4 linked regions of the Homo sapiens genome follow. The protein of the gene in region 4 interacts with the protein of the main gene of each other region in a biochemical or structural test. Each region holds a gene or a part of one and is shown on either strand. Other genes may lie near its edges.

Region 1 (7,025 bases), on a different chromosome or scaffold from region 4:
GAATAATCCAAAACTTTTAATTGATTCCTAACTGATTCAGACACAGAAGGGTGAATTCTGGTAACCTCTTAGCTACCTAGGTCTCTGTTTTAAAAGAGAATTGTTAAATCTCTGCTTAAAACGGTAGAATTCAGATATTTGGGGCTATTAATTTAGAGCTAAATTTTCAATACTGCCTTCCTTCCTGGTCTTAATCATTTTTGCTATCTAAGTATTAATTATAAATAACATCCATTAGTAACATTCACGCTCACTGGCAACAATTTTAAAAAAGAAAAATTTTAAATGGAGGCTTACAGTTGTGGTAAATTTGGTCTAACAAAGGGATCATTCTCTGCTCCATTGACTGCTTTGTTTTTCCTTTGTTTTGGTTCAGAATTGGTAGAGGGTGCCTGAGAATTATTAGCTGTGGGAGGTTTGCGTTTGGCTAGAAGTTTCCTTTGCCTTTCAATATCTTCCCTTTGCTGATTCACCCATTCTTGTTGCCTGTGTAAAAATAAACAAATAAAACCATATTAACCTTCCATTACTTTTCAAGGCTAAACTTGGAAAAAATGCATAAAAAACATGAAAAACCATAAAATATACATTCGTAACCTTTTGGTTCCACTCTTGTGAACCAATTTGTACTTATCCTTCAGGTCTCATTTGAAAGAATTTTTTTAAGTGAGGTATTCTCTAAACCCCTAGATTAGGGAAAGATGTGTTGCCATATATAATTTCATGGGATCTTCTATCTCCCCACCTCACTCTTTCTAATAAATATTATTCCTATAGATACTTTATCAGAAAGTGTCCGGTTAGATGACATCACTCCCTAAGAACACAGATGGTGTCTATTTATACAGTATTTATACTGTTGTATCCCTAGTACCTAGTGTAGTGATCATCACTTACCTTTGCTCAGTAAATGTTTCTTGAATGAAATGAGATAAAACAATACCCCAAACTATTAAAGTATGGGGTATATGTTACACATGCATCTCACCACAGTATTTGCAAACAAATTTACAAAAGGCAAATATGAATTTAATGTGAAGAGAGTTATTTTCTAAATCTACTTTTGTTAAAAAAAATTGGTAATGGGAAGTTGGTGTTTTGAAATGAGACAAATTAACCTTAATATAAGAAATTTATGAGAAAAATTTTTTTGATAATTTAAGGGGAAAAAGACAAGAAAATAGCAAGAAAAATTAGCATGGCTCTGAAAAATGGGAAAGTAACAAAAATAAAATCAATGCTTCCCATTCAAGAAACTGAAACAATTTTGCAAATAGCTCCCTAATTCTAAAAACGAATAGATACCATGTCTATTATTAAAATGTAGATTAGATATTTTAGCAGTTTGAGCAGAGCATAAAGTAGTTAACAGTGAAGCTTTTTAAAACCAACTTATCATACAACACCTTAAGCTTATTCTAACAGTAACCATGTTCTCTTTCAGGTCACCTCACTATGCCAATAAAAAATTTTCAAATCCTACATGGTTACAATACTTAGAGCAAGTCAAATATTTCATGCCCTCCTCTCCCCAACCACTGACATCAACTAAAGGGCTCCTACTTTGCTAATGCAGAATTGACCTTACACACATCCCCTTCCCTATGGTTTTAGTGATAAAGTAGCAGAATATGATAGGAGTGAAAAAAATCAAGAAGAATCTAGGTAGAAGATTGAAAGGGTAGAGAAAAATCTCAAGAATAGCAAAGTGAGAACAAGACTTTAATCCGGTTTTCATTTAGAAGCAGGAATAAATTTCAATTTTTAATAAGTAAATCTTAAGGCTATTTTAGGGCACAATCAAGATGGTATAAATGCAAATAAGCAATAATAATCCTAATGATTAAAATATTAATGGAAAGTAAAGAATTACTGGAATAGATATTAATAGCTGATTACTCAGGGATGACTATACAGTTTAGAGATTAATATTATTACTTTTATTTATTTCTCTTCTCATCTTCTAACCACTCTGGATTATATCACCAATTATAAACGGCTTGATATACACACAGTAGGTCCTCAATAAATGCTTATTAGTGAAAGTCAGGACATACAAGTAATTATTTTCTTTTTTGACATTATTTTTTGAGACAGACTCTCACTCTGTCGCCCAGGCTGGAGTGCAGTGGCATGATCTCGGCTCACTGCAGCCTCCACCTCCCAGGTTCAAGCAATTCTCGTGCCTCAGCCTCCCGAGTAGCTGGGATTACAGGCGCCCACCACCATGCCTGGCTAATTTTTGTATTTTCAGTAGAGACAGGGTTTCACCCTGCTGGCCAGGTTGGTATCAAACTCTCAACCTCAGGTGATCCTCCCAACTCGGCCTCCCAAAGTGCTGGGATTACAGGCGTGAGCCACTGCACCTGTGGCCTCTTTTCTGACAGTTAAGAGGAGAAATTGGAACTACTAGTAGAATTTATATTTCAGAACATTCATATTAATTATATAACTGTCTCTTTTATTCATTGCAGGACAATTGCCGGTCTGGGTTTAGTAGCAGAGCCTCTTGCTCATAAACACTAAAAAATTATCTTCTCCTGCTTTCCACTTTACTGTTGATATGTTAGTTCATGCTTTAATCACCTTTCATCTGGATACCCCTCCATCTTAACTACCAATAACATTCATCCTCTAATAATATTTTCACATTACCATCAGTTATTATTCTACAACTATCACTGTAGATATCATTCCGATCACGTACACTATATGTAAACCTTTAACAAGTCCCATTATCTGCAGAATTGAAACCCAAACTCTCTAATATCACAAGGACATTATCCTTTGTTTCACTGTGGTATAACTAGCACAGATATGTTGAAGAAAAGTTGAATAAATCTGCTGAGAGAGAAGGCCATTCTGTGGCAAGTCCTAGGAGGCAGTGTTTGAACAGCAATGTTGGTGTGATACCATGTGAAAGTAAGTTCTGCCTCTATTTCAAATAACTGGATACTCTGGAAAAGCTGATGTTCATGCTGGCATTACTCCCCATTTTCAGGTTTAAAAAAATTTTCCACCAAAAACGGAGTAGCATATTTAGCACTCCTTAACACATAAACAGCCAATAAATCCTTTTCTACCACCATCTGAACTCAAGAAAATATGGTAACTATAATTCCTCTGTTTAAAAGTTTGATCTGAAAAGTAACAGAAAACCAAACACCGCATGTTCTCATGTATAAGTGGGAGCTAAACATTGGAGACACATGGACATAAAGATGAGAATGATAGAAACTGGGGGCTACAAAGATGAAGGAGGCAGAGACAGGGGCAAGGATTGAAAAACTACTGGGTACTATGCTCACTACCTGAGTGGTGGGTTCAATTGTACCCCGAACCTCAGTATCAAGCAATATACCCCTGTAACAACCTGCATATATATTCCCTGAAACTAAAATAAAAGTTGAAATTAAAATAAATAAATAATAAATAGAGTTTACCTCAGAAACGCTAAAGCCACATGTTCAGTTTAACTGATAAATCAGTTATTATATCTGAGGCAAAAGAGAAGTTTTTTCCCTTAGGAATAGAGAGCAGGCAAGTGCTGAACATTAACATGTAAGGATTGGGGAATGGGAAAAAACTAAGTAGGAAAATCCTAGGAAATAAACACACACACAAATCTTCCAGTGAAAATTAAATTTTCAACAATTTCCCTCTCAAAACATCATCTGTAAAGCTAAAGGTTCAATTAATATCTCGGAAAGTCAGAATTAGAATAATATATTACATTCTATAGATGACTGCTAATTAATCAAGAAATTACTAAGCTAAAACTGTAATACTCTTGGTTTCATATCCCTTTCAAAGGTACTAAATTCTATGATTTCAGAGTAGCGAGGAACTGGAGAGCATAATTACAAATCTATAATCTTTTAAAGTAATGAAAACCCAAACGAATACTAAAAACTTTTAAATGTTAAGAATGACTAACTTCACAAGATTCTGAAATGCAAAACCATCTGTCCATTGTTCAGTAAATGAAGCGCCATGTCTAACTGTTGTAAAGTGCCCGAGGCGTAATCGATCTTGCATACTCTTCTCTCTGCTTGACAGCTTTTCTTGTGTACTCTGAAAAGGAGAAAAAAAATCATCACTCAATTGTATTCATTAATTTATAAAAGCATACAAAGCAAAAGGGGCTAATGAAGGGAAAGCGAAAATTTACTCAACTTTTAGCCTACCTTTTCAATAAGAAGTTTCTTGCTCATTGATATGCACTTATTTAATCGTTCTTTGTATTTTTCAAGTAATTTTTGTTGTTCATCTATTTGCCGTCTGAGATCACAGTTAGCCTATGACATAAGTAGAAAATGCAAGAGGTCTAGACTGGGGAATATGAAAAGCTTAGAAATAGTTTTAATGTTCTAAATAAATTATATACAGATAGGACTAATAATATTAAATATCTGAGTATGATACGAGAAAAAAAAAAAGCCTACTTAACCATGAGATAATACTGTTAAATGTTACTTAAGTGTGTAGTGGAAAGTACATACAGGGAAATTTGTATCCATATCCATACATTCAAATCCATACTCTAAGGTTAACTTTGGCTAAGTTATAAGAACTTTAGTTCAGCTTTCTTATTTCTAAATAGAAGCAACACAATCTACCTCACTTTGTTAAAAATAACTAAAATATGGTATATAAAGTGTCTATCACTTAAAAATAAATGTGAGTTTTCCTCTATCTCTTATAATTAACAAATTAAATGTGGGTTTTCCTCTATCTCTTATAACTAACAAAATATTTTCTCCACTGAACTTATAAATGACATACACAAGTTGCCTACCCAACAACTGTCCTCACCATTCTTCCTTAGCAATAGGATACTAATTCTGTTCACTTTGTAGGTGGCCATATGCTCAGAGAAGAGGCTTCCTTCTAACATCAAAAGATGAGTCTGATTAGTACAGTGGCAAGAGAATAACCTATAGGGCTTGTTACAACAGATTACTGGGAACCATTCCCAGAGCTTCTGAATCAGGTCTCAGGAAGGACCTGAAAATTTCCGTTTCTAATAAGTTCTCCAGTAATACTGATGCTCCTGGTCTGAAGATCACACTTTGAGAATCAAAAGTCTAGGCCAACCATGGTGGAATCCACAAGACAAGGGCACAAAATCTTAAAAGTGCTGAGAGAAAAGAATTGCCAACCTAAAATTAGATACCCAACACAGTTGTTTTTCAAGGAAGAGGAAACAGAATTTAGCACCAATAGACCCTCAGCAATTCAAACAAAATCTCAACACTGTGTGTGTATGATGCATATGCAACTTGAAACCTGATTCTAAAATTTCTCTAAGACTGTGAAGGGCCAAAAATAGCCAAAAAGAAGAAGAGGATATCTGTTTAACCATGTATCATGACTTAACATAAAGCTACATAACTATGATCACCCAAGCCTCCTCCTTCCTTAATAATGGAAATTCAATGTTTTATCCTGGATTGCTATCTGCCTAGCCAAATGACTACAGTTCCCAGCTTCCCTTAGAGCGAAGGATGGTTAATGAGATGCAAGCAGAAGTTGTTCAATGAGATATCCAAGAAGGCTGCACACAGAATTGTGCTTTGTGTTCTCTGCTCCCATCCTCCCTCCTGTTATCTGCTTAGAACACAGATATAATTGTGACCCTAATAGATATATTGAACCTTGATGTGACCTTTGAGATATAAGCCATGAACTAACAATGACAAGGTCCCTTATGATACTGAGGAGTAATAATATCTGAGCTGCCCACTTCTGTTCTTCTCTTGAAAAATAAGCTTCTATCTCATCTGAAGTACTGTTATTTATGTTCACTGTTACTAACAGCCAAAAACAACTGATAAAAATTGTTTTATCAACAATGATAAAAAGATGCTGCAGTACTTGTGTAGAGACACAAACAGAACAAGGAAACATGATACAGAACACAGAAACAGATCCACCTGTATACTGGAAACAAGATTTTATGATGATAGAGCTGGCAGTATAAGAATGAGCTTTTAATTAAATGGGGATGAACAACTGGTTATCCATATAGAAAGAAATTGAAATGAAACCCTACATCATGCCATACCCAAAACCAATTTCAGTAAGACTAATAATTTATATTGAAAGATCAGCTGGGCATGGTGGCTCATGCCTATAGCCCCAGCACTTTGGGAGACCAAGGTGGGAGGATCACTTGAGGCCAGGAGTTCAATACCAGCCTGTAGACTCCCAGCTCTACAAAATAAAAAAAAATCAGCCCGGAGTGATGGCATGAGCCTGTAGTCCTAGCTACTTGGGAGCCTGAGGTAGAAATATTGCTTAAACCCGGGAGTTTGAGGCTACAGTGAGCTATGATCCCCCACTGTGCTCTAGCCTGGGCGACACAGTGAGACCCTGTCACTTAGCGGGGGAAAAAAAAGACCAGACCAAAAAACCTTGAGAAATAACTGGTATTATACAGTAAAATGGAAAATGCGTATGCCCTGTACTCTGGCTATGTCTTTCCTAAACATATACCACAGAAAAATTCTTTCATATGTGCCCTGAAGACATGTACAAAGAATGTTCTTAGAACTGTTTATACTAGAAAAAGTAGAAATAAAATGTCAACTAAAAGCAGAAAAGATACAGAAATTATGGTATACTTGTAACACCTTACAATATTGCAATGAAATGAACAAACTACAGTTATACTCATCAAAGTGGATGACTCTCTGATATATTTCATTGAAAACAAGCTGGGCAAAAGGGTCCATACTGGAAAATTTCACTTAACGTTCAAAAACCAACTGAAATAATATGTTGTGAAGAATGTAAGCACATATTTAATACAACCATAAAGAAACACCAAGGCATCACAAATACAAAATTTAAAATAGTGGTTAAATGGTAAATGGGTGTGAGAAAGTAAATATGACAGGATCAGGAAAAAGACACACTGGATGTTTTAAAGACACTGTCAAATACAGTAGGATCACAGGTGTTGGTTTTATCGAGTTTCTACACCAGTAGTTCTCAATGCTGTCTTAAATTAAAGTTATCTG
Region 2 (6,877 bases), on a different chromosome or scaffold from region 4:
CAGGCAATGTGACATAGGCTAAACACTAAATGAGTGATTTGTTTCCCAAATTACACTGGATTAATTCACACACTTCAAGATAAGATACTATTATGGAATGATTTTTATATATACATTCAACCAACATTTCCTAAGGGCCCACTATATGCCAAGCAACCCGCTTAGCACTTTTCCAACAGTGTCTCATTCAATTCTCACATTTTATAGATTAAAGATGTGAATCTGAAAGGGTGAAGTGACTTGCCGATGTCTACATATTAAGCTGCAGAGACGGGATTTAGAATCATGTCTTCCAACTCCATGTCCTTTCATGGGACGTTTTTTGCTTTTTCATTCATCCTATGGAATACAATAAAGTGTTCTGCACAAATGAGCCACCACCAACTGCCAGCCTGATATAACTAGATGCTTATCTACATTCTGAGACGGGACCATATCAGATCAAATTACTCTGGTGCCTATTATAGATCATGTGCTGAAAGAAGTGCAGTTGGCTGAAGATGAGCAACTCTTTCAAGTTATATTTTAACAGTGTTTTTGACCACTATATCCGGTCAGTTGTTCCAGTGTTCAGTAATAAATCAAAATGATTGTTCGTTTCCTTTGACAGTTAACAGTACTAATGAATTCAGTATAATCTCACCATCCATCAGAAAAATTTCTAAAATGCGAACTTGAAGCTGATGATTCACACAGTTAGAAGAGAGGGGGAAATAAAGCAGTACTCATTGTTTTCTACAAAACTAGCATTGTTTGCAAAATCCAGAAACCAAGCAGTTGGTTAACTACTAATAACAAGCAGGTTGCTCCTTGGTCATTTAGCAAAAAGCTGCTTGTTGCACCACAGTCGATGGCTGAGAAGCATATGACTTCAAGTAGCTTTTGCTGTACAGTAGGATTCCATACATATAAATCAGTGGATCGTTATGTAAGACAAGAAAAAAATTCAAAATCTTCACACCAGAAAGCACCTGACACTGAGTGTGGCACAAATCCGAATAAATGTATACTGAGTAAACCATGTCAGGGTCTTTTGAAAATATCAGTTGTCTATGAAATTGAGAGAAGAAAAACCAAATCACCTGAATTCATACAGGTTATGTTAGGAACTCAAAAATATGGAACAGCTGGCTCAAGATGTATAACAGATTCACAATGACCAAAAAAACAATGTTTACAAATGTTGAATTAAGAAGCATGAATTTGACATCTCTCTTGAATTAAGTCACCACACTGGCACCCAATGGAATGCTTATAGGCAATCTCAGTAGAAATAACAAAAACTGAAAGAACTGACGGACAGAGCTAACTTTCCAATCTGTTCAAAACAGAAACAAGATGTACTAGTGGACACCTGAATCCTGCCGTTTAAGCTTTTGTGCCTTCACAATTAAATAATAACCCGGCCGGGCACGGTGGCTCACGCCTGTAATCCCAGCACTTTGGGAGGCCGAGGCGGGCGGATCACTTGAGGTCGGGAGTTCGCGACCAGCCTGACCAACGTGGAGAGGACCGCCCCCCCCACCCCGCCCCCACAAAAAATACAAAATTAGCCGGGCATGGTGGCGCATGCCTGTAATCCTAGCTACTCCGGAGGCTGAGGCAGGAGAATCGCTTGAACCCGGGAGGCGGAGGCTGCGGTGAGCCGAGATCATGCCACTGCACTCCAGCCTGAGCAACAAGAGCGAAACTCTGTCTGAAAAAAAAAAAAAAAAATCCCAATATGCCAAAGCAGCTCTGTCAAAAACCTTCAACGCTCACAAACATATCTAGTAATAACGAACGACTCATTAAAATGTACTATCTGTTCAGAGAAAAAAGTATTAATATATCTACAATACGAGACTGGGCTCCAAGAATATAAATCCAAATTGTACTGATTGGTCTGAATAAGCATTTTCCAAAATGAACAACCTGAACCTACACCACGAATACATTTAATTAGTTATAAAGCTTAGGACAACGCTAGTGATCTCAAACATTAGAACGTAAGCGCTGAAGCCTGCTCGTTAGTTCCTTTTACCTGGAGCTTTAAATTTCTAAAGCCATCATCTCCAGGGACCTCTGAAGGAAATTCAAGGCCAAGTATAGTATTTCATGATAAGTGAGAATAAAGGCACTCAATCCCTGGAGCCGGCGATTCCTGTTCCTGTCTCTAGACTGGACTCGGTAAAAGCCCGAGGCGAAACCTCCCGTTTATCTCCTACAGGACCCCAGCACCTTAGGGGATGGCTCCACAGAGCCCCACCGGGACCCCCCATCGCGGGGACCAGAGGGGCGGAGGAGGGAGACACTCTCCAAAACAAAGCGCCGCTCGCCCCACGCGGAGGCAGGCGCACCTTTCGCCCTGACAGGACGCAGACACACGTGTGTCACCTGTGCGGGAAGGGGGAGCAGCGACATCCTCGGAGGTGCGTGCCACGGGCAGCGGTCGGCGGCTGCGCTGGCCCCGATGCCTGGTGCCCGCCGCTCATTCCCGGGCTGGGGAAAACTTTCGGCCGCCTCCCCCAAGGCGCGCCCCCACCTCCCGGGACCCCCGGGGCACGCGCCCCGACCGCGACGCCCCGCCCCAGGCCCGCCCCTCCGCGCCCACGGCTGCGGCCCCGCGCCCCCAGCCCCGCGCGGGCACCCGCGTGCCCTCAGGCGCGCCCCCGCGCCGGGCCCGGCCGGCAGAGGGCGGGGTCGCTCACCAGTCCGCAGCTCGTGCTTGACAGTGAGGAGCTGCTCTCCTCCGTCGCCGCCGTCCGCGCTGGTCCCCGCGGCGCCGCCGCTGCTGCCACCCTCCTCCTCCATCTTCTCCTTTTTTTCCGATCCCGCGGGTCGCTACGAGGGGAACCCAGGAGACAGCGGACGCCCGTCCCCTCGCAGCCGCTGCCGCGGCCCCAGGAGTCGGGGTGCGGCGGCTCCAGAACTCGGACGCAAAGACGAGTCTCTTTCCCGCTCTGGCCGCACGGCTCGCTCCTCGCCTCCTCCCCCTTCGGCGGGCACCGCTAGTACCGCGCAACCAAACCGCCCCCTGCTCCACCGCCGCCTCCTCAGGCCGCTCCGCCCACAGCCAGCAAGGTAAGGGAGCCATTCGAGCCGCCTTCGCTGATTGGACACAGGGCGCGCGCGTCTGCCAACGCCGGTTCCCATTGGGCAGTACGCTGTGACGTTTCACGAGCCTCCCCGCCTCGCTCCTCGAATTGTTGTTGCTTGGCGGGGAGGCAGGAGAGGGAGGAGCGCCGCCACTCCGATTGGTGAGACCCAAAGCTCTGCCCCGCCCATTTCCTCTGGTGCGCACTCGCAGTCAAGACCTTCCCTTCCCTGACCTCCCCAGAACGGTCACACCCCTTATTCCCCAGCTTCGATCTGTTAGTAAACAGTGTCTAGTAGTCAGGAGGCGCTCGGGGTCTCTGATTGGCTACTGCCGAAAGAGGCGGGGAGGGATGATTGGAACGTTTGGTCCGCCAATCACCGTGGACAGAGGAGGGGCCTGGAGGGTAGCGCTTATCACCCACGTGTTTGCAGACAAACCTAAGGGTCCCGGCAGCGATCCATGCGTGTGTGACAACCAGCGAGACGGCGTGCCCTAAAAAGGTCTTACTCGCTCTAGTGAACCCTAAACAAGTTAAGCAGAGTGTTTGTTCTTAAATAACAGATAGTTCTTAAACGTTACAAAAATTCACAGTCCCAGCTCCCGATGAGGAATTTTACGAAGGAGAGACATTTCTGTTTCGTACAAGACTCTTACTAGGCGCCGAAAGGATGCAGAGATTAACAAAATAGAATACAATTCCTCCCCTAAGCAGCTTTCAATAGAACGTGAGAAACAATCTGTGTGTGTACACAAAAGAACTATAAAGCAGAATTTGAAATAAAGCAGTCGTACAAAGCGTTAGAGAATCTCGCACGGATGGCAATAATTATTCCCAGACGAGGAACTGGGGAAAGCTTTTAGGGCAAGGAGGCATTTGAGATAACCAACGTAAAGGATGGATAAGAGAGAAATACCAGCAATAGACATTCCACACAGAGAGAGTAACTGTGAGCATTGGCCTACAGCAGAGAAGGCAAGGGTGGGTTAAGTGATTGATAAGGTTAGATGAAAGTATGATGTAAGAGATACAGCTGACAAGGTGAGGTGTGGTAAGATAATGGGGAACTAGGGATGCTGTGCTGAAGAGTGCAGATTTTTTTTAGTACACAGTGATGAACTGAAAAGAGGAGAGAGATAGCAGGGCAGGAATCCTGCTGCAAGGATAGAACTAAAGGGAACCTGATTTCTAGTAGCAGACACGAGAATGGGAAAAAGCAGAAACTTAAAGATGTACAGTTGGACGTAATTCAGATAGATGTGATCTTTTAAACTAAGCATGGATTGGATCAGGAGTCAGCACACTTTTTTCTATTAAGGGCCAGATAGTAAATATTTTAGGATTTGCAAGCTGTATGACCTTTTTCACAACTACTCAGCTCTGCCATTGTAGCGCAAAAGCAGTCATAGACAATAAATAAAAGAAGTAGCTGTGTTCCAATAGAATATTTTTTATGGACATTGAAATTTGAATTTCACATAGTTTTCATGTATCGTAATATATTCTTCTTTTAATTATTTTTGAATCACTTAAAAATATAAAAACAGGTCAGGCGCAGTGGTTCACACCTGTAAGCCCAGCACTGTGGGAGGCTGAGGCAGATGGATCACCTGAGGTCAGGAGTTCAAGACCAGCCTGGCCAACATGGCAAAACCCTGAATCTACTAAAAATACAAAAAATTAGCCAGGCATGGTGGTGGGCGCCTGTAATCCCAGCTACTCAGGAAGCTGAGGCAGGAGAATTGCTTGAATCTGGCAGGCGGAGGTTGCAGTAAGCCGAGATCACACCATTGCACTTCAGCCTGGGCAACAGAGCGAGACTCTGTCTAAAAAAAAAAAAATATATATATATATATATATATATATATATATATATATATATATATATATATAAACAATCCTTAGCTCAAGGGCAGTTAAAAAACAGGCAATGAGCCAGATTTGGCCTACAGGCCATAGTTTGCAGACTCCTGGATTCGACTGCTGTGAAAGACAAAACACAGAAGCCTTGCAAGTTCCTTCAGGTTGCTTTCACAGCTCCCTGGGCTTACCTGCCTGGAACATTTATCATCACACTAAACCATGACTGCCTACTTACTTGTCTTTCTCCTGCAAAAGTCATGTGCTATTTGGAGCCAGGCAATGACTGTGTGCAACTGTTCATTTGTTCACTCGAAAACTTTTATACCAGTTATATACCAAGTACTGTAATAGGTGCTAGAGACACAGTGGGAGCAAAACAGATGCAGTCCTTGCTCCTATAGAGCCTACAGTCTAGCAACAGATATAAATATTAATCACATAAAGAAATATAAACTTTCCATTGTGATCATGCTGTAAAGGAAAATTACAGGGTGCTACAATAGAATGTATCAGGGATGCCTAATTTAAGTTGGAGGAGCTGGAAGACCTTTGTAAGTAAGTATTATTTAAGCTGAGACTTTAAAAATGAGTAGGTTTTAACCAGGATGTGGCAAAAAGTAGCCTGATGTTCACCAATCTCATTTCCTCTTCCTAGACACACAGGAAGACTTTTTTTTTTTTTTTCTTACCTCCTTTGCAGTTAGGTTAGGGTCATATGACTATGATCTGGCCAATGGGGTATGGGCAGATCCTATTGGTATGATATATAACATTTTCAGGCCTGACCAGAAAACTCCTTGCATAATCACTCACACTCTTCTCTTTCAACTGCTGTAACAAAGGCCACATTTTTAATGTGGGTATGCCACAGACTGGGAGGACTCTGAACCCCTGAGTTTCCACTTAATTCTTTAAGGAGCCACCTGACCTATGTCAGACTGTGATGTGAGCAATACATACACCGTTTTAGGCATAAGCTAGTTAGATGGGATTATTTGCTACCAAAGCATAATCTAGCCTTATACTACTTCATATGTGTAATATGGAGGGATCAAAATTTTAGGAAGATGTCCTGAGGCAGGCAAAGAGCCTATTCGGTTGAGAGATTGAGAAAGGCAGTGGAGCCTTAATGCAGTAAGCAAGGGATGAGGTTCAGGAGGTGGGCAGAGGCCCGGTCAGGAAGTATGTGGTTGCTCTTATTAATATTTTTGGACTTTATCCTGTGTGAAGTGGGAAGCAGTAGAAGGAATTTAAACACAGGAATGATATAATCGTGGTAGTATTTTCAGAAGGTCACTGAAGTTAGTGTTTGGAGACTGCGCTGGAGAAGGCAAAATGGGATACAAGGAGACCAGTTAGGAGGCTATCACTGTAATCTGGGCAAAAGATGAGAGTGGGTGCAGTAGAGATGGAGAGAAATGGAACATTTCTATGTTTATATTTTGAACTTGAAGGATTAGACTTGGTTAGTGAGAAAAATGGAAATATCTGAAATGACACCAGTGTTTCTAGCGTGAGCAGCTAGTGGCTGGAAGAGGATGGCAGTACCATTTAATAATGAAAGGGACAAATTAAAGGAAGAGCACATATGAGAGAGAACATCAAGAGTTTAATTTTGAGACATCCAGGGCCAAAATTAAGTAGCTATGTGGATATATGAGTCTAGAGCTCTGAAGAGAGGTCTAGCATAGGGATGTAAGCTTAGGAATCACTGGCACATAGATGACATTTGAGGCCAGAGGTACGAATGAGATTACCTAGGGAGAAGCCTGGGTGCGGTGGATCATGCCTGTAATCTCAGCACTTTGGGACGCTGAGATGGGCAGATCGCTTGAATTCAAGACCAGCCTGGTCAACAAGGTGAAACCCTATCTCTACTAAAAATACAAAAATTAGCTGGGCATGGTGGTGCATGCCTATAATCCAAGCTACTCGGG
Region 3 (7,025 bases), on a different chromosome or scaffold from region 4:
CTGGCGCATGCGACACACACTTCTGCAAAACCAGCTGCTTTCATTTTCTCTTCTCTCTCTTGAGGCGTCCGTCACCTGTAACAGTCTAGAATTGATATATATAAAAACCATCAAATATGATCTGAGATATAAATTAACAAGTACAAGGCCTCACATTACATGATGTGAAAAGGCTAAAAACAGCGATAGAAACTACATTCATAAAAGTGCATCGTCAACATACAACGAAGGCTTTGGCTTGTTCTGTGCCCATGGGGATGTAGGCATGGCTGGCAGGGCTGCCTGGCACTAATCCCCAGCTCCCTGGAGATGCCCATCCCTGGGCACTGGCTTTTTTTTTTTTTTTTTTCCTTTAATGACAACTCCCAAGGAAACTGGGTGTTGAGAGGGAGGAGCTCTAGCAATAGGCACATTTTGGAGGGGAGGGGCCGGAAGAAAGGACCAGCGCCCAGGCTGAGGTAAATATGGCCAACTCTAAGCTGCTTGGAGATGCTGTTTCCCCAACCCCTGCTGCCATTCCCCCTCCAGGGGAGGAGCTACAAGGGAAAGGGGCTGAGACCTCAAGGGGATGGGCGAGGCTGGCTGAGGAAGAACAGAGCTGGCGGTTTTGGACACAGCTGGTGGTAGCATATGGGCTTTCCCTTCTACCAGATGGAGTGGGCTCTGGCCTAGCAGGTCACGACTCAGGCAGCCTGAGACACCTCCTCGGGCTCTCTGGGATCAGGGCACTGGCCAGGCCAGATGCCCCGACCGTGTCGTCCATCTCCCCTTCTGCTCCAGTGGGGAACAAAGGCTGGGCCAGGAGCGCAAAGGCCACAACCTTCAGCTCTTTTCAATGCAGCCTAGGCCCAAGCCCAAAGCAGGGGTACTCAGAGCCCAGAGGGCACACACAGTCTCCAGTTTAGAAACTGGGTACAGCATAAGAGTGACTCCAACTTGTAAAACAGAGACAACTGCATTGACAAAACTGGATCCCCCCTCAGTGGCAGCAGTTCCACATCGCGGGCCCCTGCCTGGGAGAGGCAGGGTCATGGCCACAGGCAGGACAGGCTCCTCCTTCCCTGAATAAGGCAGCATGACATTTGCTTCATTCATCTTTGGTAAAGGACAGGACTGGCAGAGCCAACCTGGGACTCTAGGGGACGGCAGCCTGGGCCTCTGCCTGCCACTGCTAGCGAGTGCTGGCCTTTCCCTCAGGCTTGTGGGAGCTCATCCAGCCCAGAGATGCCCTGGTGGTCTCCAGACATTGGAAGGAAAAACAAAATAACACTTTGAATGAAAATAACACTCTTCATACCCTGGCGTCAGTCTTGTGCCCCCAGACCCTCTGGGCTTCGGTGCCAATTGCAGTGTCAGGACACATCCCCGAGGGTGGGGCCCACGGCTGCCTTGCACACTGTTCCCAGCCCCTACCCCTCCACGCTGAGCTCAGGACACTGGAGCTCCTGGATCTGACAGGCTGGGGGCTCCCAGTCCTGAGGCTGCAGCCACCCCACCCCGGCTCTGAGCCCCAGTGGCGGAAGGGGCACAGACCGACGCTGGCTGGGCTGCCACTCCATGGTCCACAGCCTTGCCTGGGAGAAGCAGCAACTTCACTGAGCCCAGCAGCAGCCCCCTGCCATGCAGCAAAGGGCGACCGGCAGCTGTGTGGCCGTGAGAGCTCAGTACATGAGCTGTGCAAAGTGGTGTGTGAGCAGCTCCTCAGCTGAAGGTCTCTGGCGAGCCTCCACAAAAATGCGCCTCAGGAAGTCCCGGCCATGTTCAGAGATGTGGGAGGGCAGCTGAGGATTGGTGGGCTGGGTGGCAATCTTGAAGATGGCGGCCATAGCTTCATACTCTGCCCACGGTGGTTTCTCTGTCAGCATCTCCACCACAGTGCAGCCCAGGCTCCTGGAAAGAGAGAACCCCGTGTCACCCCTCAGCCAGCCCTGGACTCCCAGCTGTCCTGCCCACCACTGCAGAAAGAGGCGCCTTTCTCACAGCAAGCTGAGGTGCAGGACAGGCCAAGCTGAGGGATACCTCAGCTTGGATGTCTGTCCACGTGGGCTTCATGGACCTACACTCACCACACACCTGGGTACTTCTTGAAATAAGGAAAAAGAGAATCACTTAGACTTGACAGAAAGAACTCTACAATAACTGTATTAGCTACCCATAGCTGCTCTTAACAAATGACCACAAACTTAGAGGCAGGAAAACAACACAAATGTATCATCTTACAGTTCTGAAGGTCAGAGGTCTAAAATCAGTCTCACAGGGCTAAAGTCAAGGTGGCGGCAGGGCTGGTTCCTGTCAGAGGCTCTGAGGGGAGAACCTGTTTCCTTGCCTTTCCTGGGTTCTAGAGGCCACCTGCATTTCGTGGCTCATGGTCCCCTCCTTGTATTACTCCAACCTCTTGCTTTCATTGTCTCACCTCCTATTAGCCACTCTGACCTCTTGAGACCCTTCTGTAAGGACCCTTAATCCAGGATAATCCATCCATCTCAAAACCCTTAACCTAATCCTATCTGCAAAGGCCCTTTGCTATATACAATCACATTTACAGATCCAGGGATTAGGCAGTGGACATCTTTGGGGGGGCCATTATTCAGCCCACCACAATAGCTTTCCAAGGGGAGAAGCTCTCCTGACTTAGGGGCCATTTCAGAGGATAGACACAAGGTTATGTCGAGCAAGTGCAAACTGTCTTGAGTGCTAGGAGAAGGGACAGAAGCCTGCTCCTGTTGAGAGACTGGTCCAGGCCTTCAGGCCTTCAGAGTGGATCCTGCTTCCTTAAGAGATTTAGCAAACATGAGGGATGTTTTCCATGGCCTAAGTTCCCAGCTCTAATGGAGTGTGCTTTGAGCACCACCCATGTGGTGTGTGTGCTACTGCACCCAATAATACCCTTGCACACACTGCAGCCTGGGCCCTGGGCACACTCCCTCCTGCCACACCACAAAGTCCCCAGGGTGTGTTTCTAATGGGGGGCCACTATGGCCTGGGTGGAAGAATGGGTTCTGCATGTCCCAGTGCTCACCACACGTCTGCTTTCCTTCCATAGCCCTCGCCGCTGATCACCTCAGGGCTCATCCAGTAGGGTGTGCCAGTGACGGAGCGCATGCCCGTCCCCGACATACAGATCGTCTGCAGGCGTTTGCTGGCCCCAAAGTCCCCCAGCTTTACATTCCCAGCAGAGTCTCGGAGGATGTTGGCTCCTGAGGCATGAAAGGGCAGAGGCTGCAACCCTGGACCCTCTTGCATTTTCTCCCATCCTCCCCACCCCCGGGTCACTGAGAGCTGCTGGAGAGGGCAGGGCTACCACTGAATTAGACATGAACTGCAAAGGGCAAAGGATTTAGCAAAGGGGAGTCTCAGATCTACCGCACAAAATGACCATCTCCAAGGCCCACATGTAGAGGGAACTTGGCAATATTCTCTCATATTGCTCAACCAATCTCACCAGTTCCTCAGGGAAACAACTGGGGTCCCACTTTTCAGAAAGTTCAGAATGGTTAAGTGATTGGCCCCTGCAGGCACTCAATGGTAGACTTGAACCCAGGTCCTGGGGACTCCATGTATCCTGGCCCTGCTCACCCTTAATGTCCCGGTGAACAATCATGTTGCTGTGCAGGTAGGACATGCCCTCCAGGATCTGCCGCGTGTACTTTCGGGTCACGCTCTCTGTCAGAGCACCGTAAGCCTTCAACTGGTCTTTCACCGAGCCCTGGAGGCCACAAGAAGTCAGAGGAGTCCCCTCAGGGGAGGGCTGGTGGAGGGGCAAGCCCATTCCAGCCCCCAGCATGGCAGCAAAGGAGTGATTTGTTCAATTCCTATCTGGCTGGGCAGGGCATTTTGCCAGGAGCTGTCAGGCAGTTTGGAAAAGAGAGTACCCCAAGTCCTTCTCAAGCAGAGCGCCACCCAAATCCAGGAGCAGGGAGGCCTCTCTGCTCCAGATGAAGGCTGCATTTACTGGACAGTGGGCCAGCCCTGCATGCCTCAGGGGAGTGCTGGACCTAGGACAGCTGTCATCTCATACTCCCACTGCAACCTGAGGCAGGGCCCTCCTGACTCCAAGTCCCACCATCACCTCACTTTGCTCCTCTGGGCCTCTGGAGCCTCAGGTGTTCAAACTCCTATCCAAGGTGACCCCCCTCCTGCAGGCCCCAGCCCCCAGGTCAGGCCCTCTTTTGTGTGTGTCTCACATGCATTCAAGGGGCACGTACCCCTGGCATGTACTCCATGAAGATGGTCAGGGTCTTCTCAGCGCGGTCCCGCAGACAGCCATAGTACTGCACGATGCGCTCATGCTGCAAGTTCTTTAGCAACTGGATCTCGCACTCCAGAGCACTCACCTCCTAGGGGAGGGGTCAGTGGTCGCCTCAGCTCTCAGGGCCCTAGTTCTGCCCGCCTGGGTTCAGCTCAGCTTGCCCTAGTTAGTGGCCTCACAGGGATCTGCCTTGGGAACTGCAGTTGGAGAAAAGGGGGACTCTCTTAACTGTCTAGCTCTTGGCCACAATGCTGGGCAGGCCTTGGGATGGTGGCACTCCCATGGGTGGAAGGAGGCAGGGAGGTGGGAGAAGGGGCCGTGGGTGCTTAGTTAAGGTAACTGCTGTTTGTCCACAGAACTTGAAGTATAAGCGACGTTGAAAGCTGAACTGCAAAGACAGGCCATATGATTCCTCCTCTAGAGCTGGACCAAGTGAAGGAGCCCCACAGCTCCTTCCTGGGCTGAGAGCTGGGGAGAGATACTTGTCTAGGGGAGGGAGTCCCCTCTGTGTCACAGGTCATCACCTCTCAGTTTGGGTTACTTGGTACTTTGGCATCAGCTTAGTTCCTTACACCCAATCCCTCCCCTCCAGGTGCTTGGTGCTCTTCAGACCACAGTCCTTTCACCCTGTGGCTGGGACCAGGATGGACAGAAAGGGAGTTTGGGAAGAATGACAGAGGAAGCAACCTACAGCATCTCAGGCAACTACTCTGTGTGGTAAGACAGGCATTTTTGTTGAAAGGAGGGAACTGAAGTCAGACCACGGGTTAAGTGTACCTTGCTTGTCTCAGGACTGTCTGGATCAAATTGGACCTGCTTGGAAGCAAGTTCACGTCCCGTGTCCACGTCATAGCACAAATAGACCCTGCCGAAGGCACCCTGGCCCAGGAGCTTTCCCCGGCGCCAGTTGATGGGGGCACTGGGAGCTACAGGAGAGCAGAAGGAAAGAGTTACTTTGTGTACATTATTTATGAATATCCCATTCATTCTCCAGGAACAGGGTCTCTGGCTCAGGCTCCCCCTCACCCAGCACCCATCATCTCTTAGTAGAGCATCTCCACCACAATCTGGAGCAAGCCCAGTGCCCTAGTCACTCGGACCTGAAGTCAGAGTCCTAAGAAGCAGAGGATTGGCTGAAGTCATGGTTAAATGCTCTTCTGCATTGATCAAATGCATTTCCTTCCAAAGCCCCTAAATATCTTAATATGGCAGGGATGAAGGGTGTGCTCTTCCCTAGTTTAAACATGGAAAAACTAAAGATCAGAGAGGAGAAGAGGCTTGTCACACAATAGTGGAGCCAGGCTTCAGACACTCCAAGGCTTATCCCATGTGGTGCATTTGGGCCAAAGCCACCACCTGCTGAGCCTAAGGGTCCCAGGGGCCCAGCTGTTTGCCCCCGTAGCTTGTCTGAGACCACCTGGGCAGTCTCCTCCTAGCCAGGGACAGCTCCTCACACTTGGTTGGCACATTCCTCTCCTGCACAGAGAGGGCATTCTCGCTGTCCGCACTCCGCAGGCGCCCACGGGGGTCCAGGTATTGCACAGCCAGACCCATGTTCTCGCCATTTGTGCTCAGGGAGCGGCTGGAGGGCACCAGGGTGAACAAGTTGCCTTGATGACGCCGTATTCGGGGAAATGTTCTTCTGCCTGAAAGGGTGCAAGGGCCAGAGGAGAGCAAGTCACACCCCAGGCTACGAGGCGGAACGTACAAACCAGGTCTGAGACACCCCGGGCTACAAGGCGGAATATACAAACCAGGTCTCAGCCAGAAGTGATAGATAATACCAGCTCCAGCCCATCCCGTCCGCACTCCCACCTGACTCATTCCACAGAGGCTGCTGTCCCAAGCACTCCAAGAATCAGGACAAAAGCAGAAATTAGGAAGTAGTCTGGTTCAGGGAGATCTGGCCAAAGGGAAGGTGTATGGCTGGCCAACAGGCTCCCAATTGCTTGCAAGGCCAAGCCACACCCGAAGGCACTGATTTCCTTGTATCCTACTCCTTACCCCTCTACAGGGCCCAGGCCACCTGCTGCTGTGGGGCAGAAGAGGACATGGGAGAGATGGTGCCCCTGGAGCACACCACTGGCTTCAAACAAGGTCAGAGTTCCCAGTGGCAGCATCTGGTCTACAAATACTATCTTCCCTGTTTTTGTTTTTGTTTTTTTCCTGTCTCCCATGCCTCAAGTCTGGGCCACAAATCCTCAGGAATGAAGGAAAATACAGGCACTGCATGGACGAACCCACCCTCCCCATGGCAACTTGTCCTTTCTTGAGGCAGCCAGCAGGGAGCAGGTGAAGAAGAACTCACCATCACTGTAGTCCTTGTGGTGCACAGACACGTGGTAGCGCCGGGGGTAGGTTCCACCTTTGACCCCTTTGTCATAAAGCTGAGTTTCCCGATCTGAGTAAGACAGGGGAATCACTGGCTTCTGGGTAGGTCAATGTGAGCCACTTAAGCCCCCAAGTCCCCAAGGCACCTGAGACCTCAAAGCAGCAAGCCCAAGGAGAGCTACTGACTCAGAAAAGTCGAAGCAGAGCCACCTGAGGCCCCACCCAGACACCCTGCATTACCCACCCAGGCTCTGTGGAACTCACCTGAGTATTCCTGTCTGTTGTCAGGGAAGCTCTGGGCACGGGACATTCGTGATTTCCGGAAGGATGGGCTGGAGAAAACAAAAAGAAAAAACAGACTCCCGCACACTTCCACAGCAACCAAGCAGGGCGTCCAGGCAGTCTCCCTTTCTAACCCCTGCCACAGCATTAGGTGGGGGAAGCA
Region 4 (7,025 bases):
AACTAATTCAGCCATATGGCCATAGTAGGCCAGTTATGAACTTTTTATGCAGTAAAATTTAATTACAACCATATGATTTGAAATTTGCTTTGATACATAGAAGCTTCCCTTGAACTCTACAGAAATTAAATAATTTTTAAAAGCTTCTTACAAAAAAGTTCAGGGAAAATACTGAACTTATTTCAGGAAACACATGTGTATAGTACACTGGTTATATTTGCACACAGTAAATGTGCAGATCTAAATGCAGCTTTCTGTTCCTCAGGGTGGTCTTGGTAAGCTCTGGCCTTGCAAGCATCTTTGAGTGACTGGTTGTAAGCCTTGCATATATTGCAAGGACAATATTTGCTAAATGGGGCCCCTCACTCATCTGGGCCCTCCCATCAACTCTGAGCCAGCACTCAGCTCTCCCGGTGTGTCTAACAGTCCTTAAGCTGGTAGTGGAGTAATTAGTTTTCCAGATGGGATGAATCCGTGTTTCCCAGGTGAGCACGGTGTCTGCAAAATCATCACAACTAGCAACACCTAGTTCGCCCTTGGACATTCTGACTCAGTGAGGCTGTGGCGGAGCGCAGATAGGGGTCTGGGCGTGCATCCCAGGCGATTCAGAGGCAGGTGACGTGCTGGCCAGGTGGGGCGGGGCCGTCCTGACTGCAGTGCTGGGTTCAGACACTGCTCCCCGGGGAGCCTCATCTCCGCCCTCTTGTGGCCACATCCCAGAACTGCGGCAATGTACAGCATGATGGCCCTGAGACTTGAATATTTGGAGAATTTTTTTCTTAACTCAGAATTTACGTTGAGGAGTGGATCCTGCCTACCACTTCATCTGACATAAAGCTGCTTACTTAGCAGCTCAGTTACTCCCTGCTCACTTCACATATTAAAAGCTTCTCCTAAGACCGGCTATCCTTAAGAGCAGGGGCTGTGCCCTGAATTGCCTGTTGTCCACAGAACCTCCCAGAACCTCCCAGAATCGAGGCTCACGGCAGAGGTTCTGCACTCACCAAGGACGCGGGGGGACCATGTCTGTGCTCATGTGGATCCCCGCTGCTGGGCAGAGCACACCACACATCCAGACTCAACAAAATACATGGAGTCAAAGGTCAGGTGACTGAATCAATGAGTATGTTACACACCAAGAAAGACCCCTCCTCTCTGCACCCCGGGGAGCAGCCCCAGAAGCCTGGTCTCCTCCAGGATGAAAATGCAAACGCAGGTGCCTGGGGGCTCCCAGAGCCTTTGGCTTCACGGTTCCCTCCCGGCCCTGCCTGGAGCTTCATGTGCCTCCCCTTTTGCTTAATGAGAGCCGCTGTCTAAGAGTTAAGGGTTTTCTGGGTGACGTTTAACAATAATAAAGGTGACTGCTTATCTAAGGAATCCGAGCCGCGCACCTGCCAGCCGCGTTTTGTGTTTGTCACTACCTTTTACTTTCACAGCGATTTTGTGAGCTGAGTGGGCGGGTTACCTCCATTTTACAGATGAGAAAACCAAGTCTCAGAGACAGAGCTTATAAACAGCGGGCCTGGCATTCGTCCTGGGTCTGGTTCCAGGTCCTCATGAGCCGACGGGACACTCCCCACTCCCTGGAGGTCTCCTGGGCATTCCCTCCCGTGGCTCCAGGGATCTCCCCCCGACACCCACGTCTGCTTGACTCCTGCTTTAGCTCCCTGAGGGCCCCAACCCCTGGGCATGAGCAAGTTGGACTCCAGCTGGGCCCTGCCCCAGAGTCAAGGTCAGTCGCCTGCTCCAGGGCCCCTGAACCAGCCCAGGCGCAGCCCTTCCTCAAGCACCTCCGGCTTCACATGCATCTCGGAGGAAATCCACGCGTAAATGCGGGTGGGCAATGCCACCTGAGCCCCTGCACGCCTGCTGGGACAGAGCACGTCCAGGGTACAGTGCGGCTGAGCCAGAGGCGGCAGCCACCCTTGTACTCAGCTTAGTTGGGGATTCTGGGAGCCCTTAGTCCCCGCTCAGTGGAGCTGAGCAGAGGGTACCTTACCAGCTTAAAAATTTTGGAAAGCGTGCCCTGGGCATCGACTCCCTTGAATCCCTTGTGAGCCGATTTATAGTCGGACGCTCTGCCTCCGTAGCCAAATCCTGGTCTCTGGCCTTCGGCCCCCTGCAAGAGAAGACCACGGAGCTCAACCTCCACCCGCGGTGCTGGGCACGCTGCTTGAGCCACTGGGAGCTGCCACCAGGGCCCCGGGGAAGGGCCCAGGCCCCGGACTGGACTGGTGAGTGGTTCAGGAGCCACGGGCCAGCACCACGCTGAGGGGGTGGGGGCGGGAGAGGCTGCTCCCCCAGGTCTACCAGGGTGTTGGCCGCAGAGAGAGGAGGGCTCTGGTTTGGGCGGAGGCTCTCTCATGAGATATGCGGCCCAACCACACATATTTTAAGGATCTAAGTCGTTTAGGGAACAGTTGCTTACCTTCACGCTGTGGGGTGTTCAAGAGAAGATTAGCAAACATCAAGCAAATCAAGGTAAGGAGGCTCCTGCCTACACGGGTTTGGAGGACTCGGACCCTGGGGGGCTGTGCGCTGTGTAGGTGCCGGTCCCCGGAGGCCCCGGCCTGCGCCTTTGCTGGGGGCTCCTTTTGCTGATTGATTTGCACAGATTGGATTCTGGTCACATGTGCCCTGTGGTTCTAGGATCTGTCTGGGAGATCAAGAGTCCTCGGCCTTAGTAAAATGTCGAGCCTCGTATCTTTTATAAGGTTTTGAGACAAAATCCTGAGCTCTCTCCCAGGGTGAGCAGGAATCAGTCTCCCTTGGCCATAGCTCGGACTGGGAGCAACAGGAGGCCGGGGCTGCTGAGCCGGACAGAGGGAGGAGGCAGGCCTGGCTGGCACGGGGGGCGGCCGCATCCTGGCAGCAGCGGGACAGCGTCTCAGCTCCCCCACCTCCCAGTCCCCTAGCACCTTTCTAGCTCATCCGGCTGTGTGGCCTTGGGCAAGGGCAGGAACCTCTCTGAGCTTCAGTTTCCTCATCTACGCAATGGGGCTGTGCGAGAACACAAGCCGTTCATGGAGATGCCACTCCTCAGGTGGAGGCTGCCAGCTCTGGGCTTTGGTGCCAGCTGTCATTTATGGAAGAGCAGGCCGCCCTGCCCTGGCCTCATCAGCCCCAGCAGCCCCTCTGGCTTCCTCATGGGCCGTGTGACCGCAGGGGCTTCCTGACACACATGGGTGCGAGTGTCCCAGGACCAGCCTCTACTTGCTACTGTGCTGTCTTCTCGAGTGGGAACTCCACTGCAAACATGGGGAGGAAGGGAAGGAGCTCGCTGTGGGAGTCTGGGCGCGGTGGACGTTAACAATGGGGGGCGAAGTGTCCTCCCACGGTGGGTGCACTGTCTGTGGGAAGGCTGACCACGCTGTTAGCTTTTCAGGGATCTTGGTTGGCCTCCTGAGTCTCTACTCAATGGACAGGGTCCAGACTGCACTTTACATTTTGCCAACAAGAAATGGGAGACTGTCCTTGAGCCCTCTCCTGAAGACTTGAGGGAACCAAACCAGACTGTCCCTCCTCTATCAGCCTGCAGCCTTTCTTCCATTTCATTAAAGTGTTTTAGGACAGGGAGGACCTTGACCAACCTAGCCCATCTCTTATTTAGAGGTGAGGAAGATGACACCAGAGGCCTCAAGGCTTCCAGAGCACCTGGCTGCACCCTCAGCCTCTGCTGGGGGCTTCCCACCATACAAGCTACTTGCACAGTTTTCTTTTCATTCAGCCTGTGCTTGGGAGTGAGCATGGCCACTCAGAACCAGGCAGCTGCTTTCGTGTGAACAGTTGATTCGGGGGCTATCCAGTGAGGTGAGGGACGGGATGTGTGGCAAGAAGGTCTAAGCACTGCACACGAGGGGACAGCCAGCCTCGCTCTTGCGTCCTAGAGGTTTCCAGGTTCATGCTCACTCCCTGATGGCAGAGGGCAGGTTGCCAGCCTGGCTCTACATGGCAGAAAGCCACTTCCCTGCAAGCGTTAAGTCCTTCTGTCTTACTCTATTGCTTTTCTCCAAAAATAAAGCATTTTTGAGAGCTAAATCCGGGGATTGACTTTCAGATTAACAATCTGCGCGGCCTTTCCTCCTTTCCAATCCTTAGTCATGTTTATCTTTGGGGAACCTAGAATGTACCAGGAAACACACAACACAGCTTAGAAAGAGAAAGTGGGGGCTCTCTGGAACTCCAGACAAGGAGAGAGTCCTGCGGCTCTGGGAAACAGACAAGCAGACAAAATGCAGAGAAGGATTTTGCTTTGGAAAAAAGAGAAATTCAACAGACATTAGTAGGACCCAAAAGGGAGAGATGCAGGGAGGAATGCAAGGGTCTTTCTTGTTAGCTGCTGGGGCAGAACGGCCTGTGTGCAACCCCCCATCGCTCCACATTCAGGGAGGATCCGGCACGACGGCCCCAAAGTCCACTCCTAGAAAATTAAGAGCAGATAAAGCAGTAGCTAAAATAAGATTTCTGGGTCAAAAATGAATTTCATTCTTCTATCATCTTTGTCTCCTGCTGGCATAGAAAATAAAAAATTAATTGTGAGTACTAGTCCATGTACATTTGCTACATGATTGTCATCGTTTTGCAAATTCATTAGGTCAGAAAAAGCAAGTCAAATATGCATTAATGGAAAACGTTTCGGTAAATATCTTAGTTCATAATTCAGTGTAATCATGTGTGGGACTGATCTGGGATCCTCATGGTCTCTCAAGTACCCTGCCCCTTCCTCCCTCTCTTCCTTCCTCTTCCCCACCTTCTGTTTTCTTTCCCTGTTCTTTCTTCCTGTTCTTTCTCCTTGTTGTTTTTCTTTTAAAATGTATTCATTCATTTATATGATGCTTATTAATTGAGCAGAAAGTGTAGGTAGGCTCTGTTCTAGCGTATGAGAGCATTGCAGTTTCGGAGACAGACACAACCTATCTACAATACGTTGGTGGTTATTCCTCCATTTTATTCTAAAATTATAACTTTTATACAGTAAGAATCATATCTGGTATTTGCTAGTAACTAAAGTCTGTAAGTTTGGTTAGAATATAATGATTGGCATTTTAATTTGGCTCAGACACCAAATTTTTTCACTAGAAAGTTCAAATTGGCCATTTTAAACCTTCCTTGAAAGTTTGCTTTCAGTATTAACCAGCCTAAAATTCCTAAGGAAGATTTTCTGGATGGCTTGATATCTATGTTTTAATTATTATTTAAACACATACAAAACAAAAATCTTTGGATTAATGAGGTTATTATAAATCGAGCAACTCTATTTAGCCTCTTTTTCTGTTCATCAGCAGAATCATTTTCCCAGTGTCAGCATCTGGGGTCACTGAGACGGGCCAGCCAGTCCCACTTCCACATGCGGGTTCCTGGGGCTTCTCGCACTGGTTGTGTTGGAGGAAGTTAAACATTTTCTCGGACGTGGTGTTGCTCCCTCCCTGGGAGGGAGACCAGTCACGTCGCCTGGGAACCCTCTGGGAGAAGAGGATCTGGCCTTGCAGGGCTGGGTCCCCGGCACAGAAGCAAGAGACCAGACCTTCCGGAAGGGAAGACCACGTTTCATTTCCCCAGTGGAAGACAAGGCGGCCCGATCCCAGCTGTGGGCAGAGAGGTCTCGAGAGGAGAGAAAAGGAGGCCAGGAAGCAACCGAAACAGAGCAGAACACAAAAGTTGCGGGGCTGTGAGGACTGGGACGGAAGAGGAAGCCGATGGAAGTGCGTTCGTCACCTACCCAGCTAAATCTGCTCAGGGACAGTCCTCTCCCCTGCATGAGGAAGACAGAGAAATAATGACATGGTGGTCAGTGAAGGGAAAGTCCTTTCAATCAACAGGAAACACAGTCAAAGCACAGTGGAGCTGAGGTGGTAAAAACAGGTTCCACCCGGAGCTCCGAGGGGGGCCGCAGGCTCAGGGCCACAGCGGCTGTGCAGGTGCGGGAGGGACAGGAGGGGTGCATGGATCTGCCGACCTGTTCTACTTGGGAGCTGCCTGGCAACACGTTTTGGGATGGATTCTGGTAGCTCGGAGCCTAACTCTCTCTTTGGTACATTATGGGATTTTAGAGAAGGTCTATCAGAAAAGTGATGATCAATCAAAACATTCCAAGGTCTTACCTTTCCCTGCGACGGGGGTGGTGTGCGAGGCGTCACCTGGAAAGACACAGAGAACCGTGGGCTGCACTGGGAGCCCTGTGCCGCCGTCCATTTCCTAACGGGCTCCTGCCTGCTGAGGGTGGCTAGCATCCATCAGCTGCCAGAAGCACCCGGGTGCCCAGCCTCCCCACTTCTGTCCTAGTTGGTGAAGAAGTATAGACCTGAGATTGAAAATATTCTAGATGATGCAGATCTCCCAGAGCACTCAGGAAGTGTTTCAGAGGATGGAAAACACCTCCCAGAGGCTCCGTAGCTGGGGAATGGGCCCATCTTGGGACACTGAGGGAGGCGGCGGACTTTGCTTCACCGTGAGCCCTTTCCGGGGCTAGGAGTAGCGGGCCCTCTGACATTCAGAGCTTCCAAGGGGATGTCCCCAGGTCTGCAGCTCCTAAGTGCACTTATCGAATACGAGCATAAAATGTCTGCTGCACTGAGATCTTGGAATTAGAAGCCTGTGGTTTTGTTCTTGTTTTTAATCGTCTTCGTTTTGCATGGCACTTTTCGGTTTACAGAAAAACTGTGCAGAAATTAGTTTCCACATACCCCGAACAGTTTCCCTTATTAGCAACACTGCCTTAGGGCTCTCTCGGTGCTGTGCACGCTGTGGGTTTGGACAAGTGCGTGGTCTTCAGTCACCATGGCAGCCTCGACAGAGCGGTTTCGCTGCCCGAAAAATGCCCTAAAAATGCCCTGTGCTCTCTCTGCTGCCCCCTCCGCTCCCAGCCCATGGCAAGCACTCTCCATAGGTTGCAAAGCCTGTGTTTTTAGGCTAAGCGTTACATGGGAGCCTAATCTCAAGAGAAGTGAGCTCTCTGGAGAACGCACGGAGCGCACGGTGCAATCCGTGGCAGATACAGTCGGGAAGCGCTTGCCTGGAACTCGCGA

The links.
Region 1: the proteins of MBP (region 4) and TLK1 form a complex in vitro, tested with the Homo sapiens proteins (2 studies listed by BioGRID, with this or other methods).
Region 2: of the proteins of MBP (region 4) and RPS6KA5, one has a biochemical effect on the other in vitro, tested with the Homo sapiens proteins (one study listed by BioGRID).
Region 3: of the proteins of MBP (region 4) and MAP3K3, one has a biochemical effect on the other in vitro, tested with the Homo sapiens proteins (one study listed by BioGRID).

Annotation. Positions count from the first base shown.
Region 1 is NC_000002.12:171,045,877-171,052,901, forward strand, and holds part of TLK1 (serine/threonine-protein kinase tousled-like 1), read right to left. Parts: intron 4,299-7,025; coding exon 4,188-4,298; intron 4,075-4,187; coding exon 3,938-4,074; intron 487-3,937; coding exon 298-486; intron 1-297. UniProt on the Homo sapiens protein: Rapidly and transiently inhibited by phosphorylation following the generation of DNA double-stranded breaks during S-phase. This is cell cycle checkpoint and ATM-pathway dependent and appears to regulate processes involved in chromatin assembly.
Region 2 is NC_000014.9:91,057,642-91,064,518, forward strand, and holds the start of RPS6KA5 (ribosomal protein S6 kinase alpha-5), read right to left. Parts: upstream 3,001-6,877; 5' UTR 2,794-3,000; coding exon 2,691-2,793; intron 2,484-2,690; exon of another isoform or gene 2,377-2,483; intron 1-2,376. UniProt on the Homo sapiens protein: Serine/threonine-protein kinase that is required for the mitogen or stress-induced phosphorylation of the transcription factors CREB1 and ATF1 and for the regulation of the transcription factors RELA, STAT3 and ETV1/ER81, and that contributes to gene activation by histone phosphorylation and functions in the regulation of inflammatory genes.
Region 3 is NC_000017.11:63,688,414-63,695,438, reverse strand, and holds part of MAP3K3 (mitogen-activated protein kinase kinase kinase 3), read right to left. Parts: intron 6,913-7,025; coding exon 6,845-6,912; intron 6,651-6,844; coding exon 6,558-6,650; intron 6,347-6,557; exon of another isoform or gene 6,264-6,346; intron 5,896-6,263; coding exon 5,704-5,895; intron 5,176-5,703; coding exon 5,027-5,175; intron 4,967-5,026; exon of another isoform or gene 4,447-4,966; coding exon of another isoform or gene 4,402-4,446; exon of another isoform or gene 4,359-4,401; intron 4,338-4,358; coding exon 4,206-4,337; intron 3,707-4,205; coding exon 3,577-3,706; intron 3,198-3,576; coding exon 3,020-3,197; intron 1,891-3,019; coding exon 1,662-1,890; 3' UTR 1-1,661. UniProt on the Homo sapiens protein: Component of a protein kinase signal transduction cascade. Mediates activation of the NF-kappa-B, AP1 and DDIT3 transcriptional regulators.
Region 4 is NC_000018.10:76,982,776-76,989,800, forward strand, and holds part of MBP (Golli-MBP), read right to left. Parts: intron 6,138-7,025; coding exon 6,102-6,137; intron 5,753-6,101; coding exon 5,720-5,752; coding exon of another isoform or gene 5,315-5,719; exon of another isoform or gene 4,928-5,314; intron 2,436-4,927; coding exon of another isoform or gene 2,429-2,435; intron 2,120-2,428; coding exon 2,000-2,119; intron 1,378-1,999; exon of another isoform or gene 952-1,377; intron 1-951. UniProt on the Homo sapiens protein: The classic group of MBP isoforms (isoform 4-isoform 14) are with PLP the most abundant protein components of the myelin membrane in the CNS. They have a role in both its formation and stabilization.